Regions from separate parts of the Homo sapiens genome. Here region 2 is linked to region 1. The links come from fine-mapping of genetic effects on gene expression. Tissue or cell type: whole blood. Region 1 holds a variant in brackets; the other region holds the start of a gene. All regions are shown on one strand. Distances are from middle to middle.

Region 1 (2,765 bases):
ACTCTACTAATCTGCTATGTAACTCTGTAGATGGCTATTTGTACATGTGGGAATAACTGAACGTAGAATACAAACCAGGAGTGATATTTAGTTCATTTCCTACAGCTAGACTCCAAACTTTCCCACGGACACTAGGGGGCAATCCCTGCCACCACAATTCTCGAACTCTTCTTGTACTACGCCTAGAATTAAAGGAGGAGAAAAAAGGAGAAAGTTACTTTTTATACCAAAAATACTAGTTGCATGATGGATTATCTTTAGTCTATGGCCAAGTGATCAAATCATTTTTAGGACTATAGAGAATTAAGTATGTAATGCATTCTTTTCTTTGCGTTCATGCTTGCAGGCAACAACAGCCTACAAGATGTATAGGATCCCAAAGGGGCAACAGTAATCTAAAGGGAACTGCGTTTTATAAATGTCAATGAGAGAATCAGAAATATGCAGTCAATTATTTAAAAAACAGGATAAAAGGGACATAAAAATGTATCACCAATTCAGCACCAAAAACAAAACAACCAAGAATCTACAGTGGGAAGGCCCTAGTTTTTGAGAAGCAGTAAAGTCTGCTAAAAAAAACTGTCGGCTTTAAAGTCAGATAGATCTGAGATCCAATCTAGTTTAACCATTAATTAAATGTATAACCTTGGGCAAATCACTTAACCTCTCTGACCTTGAGTTTCCTTATAAGATAAATGGGAGTAAAAATACATACACCTTATAAAAGTTCTAAGACTCAAATGCAATTACTTATGTAAAGTGCCTCAGATAATATGTCACACTGTGCCAATATTCAACAAATTCCCAATGTACAAACTACAGTAGGCATTGCAGAAGATATCCCCAACCCTCCAGTCGAGAGGGAAGATAAGGCATATTTTAAAATGTTATGTAAAAAGGCAATAAGAAAGAAATTCTGTCATTTGCAACAACACAGATGAACCTGTAGGATATTGTGCCACGTGAAATAAACCAGGCACAGAAAAATCAACACATAACCTCACTTATATGTGGAATCCAAAAAAGTCAATCTCATAAAAGTAGGGGGTAGAATGGTGGTTATGGCCGGGGAGCGGGGAGTAAAGTGAATGGAGAAAGGTGAGATGTTGATCAAAGGGTACAAACTTCCGTTAGAAGAAATAAGTGTTAGTGACCTATTACATAGAATGGTGACTATAATAAATAATAATGAACTGTATGTTTCAAAATTGCTAAATGAGCAGATTTTAAATGTTTTACCACAAAATACTGAGAAATACGTGAGCTGATGGATGTGTTAATTAGCTTGATTTAATCATTCCATAATGTAAACATATACCAAAACA[A/T]CACATTGCACCAGGCAGGTGGCTCACACCTGTAATCCTAGCACTTTGAGAGGCCAAGGCAGGCAGATTGCTTGAACCCAAAAGTTCGAGACCAGCCTGGGCAACACAGTGAGACCCCATATCTATAAAAAAATACAAAACTTAGCTGGACGTGTTAGCACATACCTGTAGTCCCAGCTACTCAGGAGGCTGAGGCAGGAGGATCACCTGAGCCCAGGGAGGTCGGGGTTGCGGTGAGCCTTGATCTCGCCACTACACCCCAGCCTGGGCAACAGAGTGAGACCTCGTCTTGAAAAAAAAAAACCCTCAAAAAACACATCACGGTAGGGTGCAGTGGCTCACACCTATAATTCCAGCACTTTGGGAAGTCAAGGCAGGCTGATCACTTGAGGCCAGGAGTTTGAGACTAGCCTGGCCAATATGGTGAAGCCCTGTTTCTACTAAATATACAAAACAATTAGCCGGGTATGGTGGCAGATGCCTGTAGTCCCTGCTACTAGGGAGACTAAGGCATAAGAATCGTCTGAATCCAGGAGGTAGAGGTTGCAGTGAGCTGAGATCGCGCCACTGCACTCCAGCCTGGGTGACAGAGGGAGACTCTGTCTCAAAACAAAACAAAAACAAAAACAAAAAAACAAATCACCCTGTACCATATAAATATATACAATTATTATTTATCATTAAAAAGATGCTGGCAAAATAACTTAAAAATGAATAAATAAATGCAAAGGCAAGATAAGTATATTAGTCTCAAAGTATGATGATGGGACATTTACATAAGGGAAAGATCATACATATTTCCTTGATTATGAGATAAACACTTTAAAAATCATTTTAACAATAAGTGCATCTTCTAATACATTTATATATTTAATATTCTCTTTCCAAATAACTGCTATTACATCAATAGTGCGTCTTACAATTGATGGTATGTTAGCATTAAGAAAATACAGTAACTAGGCCGGGCACGGTGGCTCACGCCTGTAATCTCAGCACTTGGGGAGGCCGAGGCAGGCAGATCACAAGGTCAGGAGATCGAGACCATCCTGTGAATGGTGAAACCCCGTCTCTACTAAAAATACAAAAAATTAGCAGGGCATGGTGGCGAGTGCCTGTAGTCCCAGCTACTCGGGAGGCTGAGGTGGGAGAATGGCATGAACCCGGGAGGCGGAGCTTGCAGTGAGCCGAGATTGTGCCACTGCACTCTAGCCTGGGCAACAGAGCGAGACTCCGTCTCAGAAAAAAAAAAAAAAAAAGAAAACACAGTAACCAAAGACATTAAAAGTTTCATAAATCAATTAGCATTTCAGTTGGGTCCCAAAGGATAGGTAAGATTTAGCAGACACCACGGTGAAACCCCATCTCCACTAAAAATACAAAAAAAAAAAAAATTAGCCAGGCGCGGTGGCAGGCGCCTGTAGTCCCAGCTACTCGGGAGGC
Region 2 (2,632 bases), 46 kb before region 1:
GGATGACAAACGAAAAAACTCACTATGGACTTTGAAAGACTTTTCATGGCTAAACAAGCAATCTGAAATGCTCATTTAAAAGTGATGGGACTACCAAGACTACATCTCATAGAAACACACCATTCAAAGCACTTGCGAAAGGATTCTCAAAGGCAATATCTGTAAACATACAAAAAAGACAAGTAATAAAGCTGTTTTCTTTCAGTTATTAAAAAGCCCACTAAATAGGAAAGCAAAGAACACAAACCACACCTCCGGGTTAAAGCCGAGGTTACCACAGGCTTTCACGACGACGAACCTGATGCCTAAATTACCTTTTCCAGCATCTTCCGCTCTCTCTCTAGTCCAGCAGCTTCAAGCTGTTCTTCCTCTTCTAGCATGGCCGGGGTAATCACAGCAGTGTCCAGTTGTTCAACCATTGCTGGAGCCTCCGAGCCTGACGGGGGAGAAAGCTTTCAAATTGCAGTTTTAAAAAAATTACCAACTACTCAACTCCAACAAGAAACAGCCTTTCTCCCACCCGAGATGCACTGGAGCAAAAGCTGAAGACCGAGGGGACGCCAGCATCACCTCTCAGAAGACACCGTAAGTCTTCACAATGTCTACAAGTCGCCTGGACCACAGTTTACAACTCGGGATGCTCGGGAAAATGCAGTTGCCTATGTGAAATCTTCACCGGCATGCTAATACGTGCGATTCCGGGGTGTCCTCCACTCACCGTTGCAGTTTCCCAACCCTCCTTTCCTCCTCAGTCCCTGCCCGGGGTCGGCTCCCTCCCCGAAACTCCGCCGCAGCCTCCATGCTTGCCCACCTCAGCCCCGCAGGCTGCCACCCGCGCCCAAAAGGTTTTCCTCACTCACCGCCGCTGCCCGCGGGCCGTTCCGCTGGCATGCCTGGACACTCACCCGGGAACCGGGTCCCCTCCTCTCAGAGCCTGCAATGCCGCGAGCTAACTCCTCACAACCGCTGCCGGCCCAGCCTTCTAGCCAAATCCCCCGCCAGGGAAAAAAGCGCGCTTCTCCTTCGCGGGAAAATCCTGTCATCTCGCGATACCTTACATTCCCCACCCGCCCTCCCGCCCCGCTGCGCGAGATTTGGCGCAGCTTGCGGTTTTCGTCAGGACTGACCTGTGGCAACCGTAAACCTTTACCTGGACCTCTCTCAGGAGGAAACTGGGTCCCGCTGCCGAACTCAGCCTGTAACTATCCTGTGAGATTGGGCGAGGTGGCCGATCGTGGAGAACCCAGTTTCCTCACATATCTGGTTCCGAACTACGCAATTAAAGTTTGATAGTGCTGTTAATACTTTGCAAGGCGCCTTCCAACGCTGGCTGCTGTGATTGAGCACCCGCTAGCCCATGATCCTGTAGGTAGAGACGTCTGCGTATCTGCACGAGGATGTCAGAAACAGAAACATTTTTATAGGGCCAGCCTCGCCGCACCCGCAGCGCGCGGCTCACATCTTAAGTGAAAAATCCCCCAAAATGACAAAGAGGAGGGCTTTTTTGTGGGTGGGACGGGAGAGAGAAGGAACAGGAAATTAAGATTATGACTGGGTTAAAGAAAGCTGTTTAGGATAAGGGCAAGCTGAAAGAAGTGATGGACCAAGCGGAGTGGCCAGCAGAAGGAAGATTCAGGAAACCAAACAGGATTCATTCATTCGAGTGGGCAGTGAAGGAAGGAGCGGAGCTTTTCTTGTCCCTGGTTTTCACTTCAGCTTTCAATTCCTCCTTTTCTTGTTTGCATTCCTTTTCAACTATTTCCTTTGTCTCCCTCTCCAGGGCTCCCTTTCCCACCTCCAATTTCTTAAGATGTATGGCATTAAATATACCTACCATGTAACCACCCGTTTCCTTCATTTTGACTCCCACAACTTGTATGATTGTGTCTATACAAAATTTAAGAGTTTACAAGCCGGGTGCGGTGACTCACGCCTGTAATCCCAGCACTTTCGGAGCCCAAGGCGGGTGGATCACGAGGTCAGGAGTTCAAGACCAGCCTGGCCAAGATGGTGAAACCCTGTCTCTACTAAAAATACAAAACAGCCGGGCACGGTGGCAGGCGCCTGTAGTCCCAGCTACTCGGGAGGCTGAGGCAGGAGAATCGCCTGAACCTGGGCGGCAGAGGTTGCAGTGAGCAGAGATCGCGCCATTGCACTCCAGCCTGGGCAACAGGGAGAGACTCCGTCTCATAAAAAATAGAAACGAAACCTAGTCTCTATATTTTATTTTATTAAGATAGGGTCTCACTCTGTCGTCCAGGCAGGAGTGCAATGGCACGATCTCTGCTCACTGCAATCTCCACCTCCTGGGCTCAGTTGATCCTCCCACCTCAGCCTAGCAAGTAGCTGAGACTACAGGTGCGTGCCACCACGCCCGGACATTTTAGTGTCGGACATTAGCCCATTCCAGGCTAATTTTTGTTGGTTTGGGGTTTTTGTGTGTTTTTGTTTTTTGGTAGAGACGGTTTTTCGCCATGTTATCTAGACTGGTCTCGAACTCCTAGGTTCAAGGGATCCTCCCAACTCGGCCTCCGGAAGTGCTGAGAGTGCAGGCGTGACACATTGTGCCTGGCCCCTACAAACATTTCCAAAATTAGCCGGCTGTGGTGGCACATGCCTGTGGTCCTAGTAC

Evidence for each region. PIP is the estimated chance that this variant, and not a neighbour inherited with it, causes the effect.
Region 2: HELLS starts here. The variant in region 1 is fine-mapped to the expression of HELLS in whole blood (INTERVAL, PIP above 0.99).

The regions. Positions count from the first base shown.
Region 1 is chr10:94,497,638-94,500,402 of GRCh38, reverse strand. TBC1D12 (TBC1 domain family member 12) reads right to left here. Exons shown (of 13, transcript NM_015188.2): 6 at 76-182. Among named protein-coding and RNA genes, the nearest start is that of HELLS, 47 kb to the left of the region's middle. The variant A/T (reference allele first, on the strand shown) is at 1,326.
Region 2 is chr10:94,544,181-94,546,812 of GRCh38, reverse strand. HELLS (helicase, lymphoid specific) reads right to left here and starts at 1,025. Exons shown (of 22, transcript NM_018063.5): 1 at 861-1,025; 2 at 315-436. The coding sequence starts at 891. RefSeq lists enhancers at 96-719, 720-1,344, 1,882-1,931, 1,345-1,969 and a silencer at 1,092-1,171.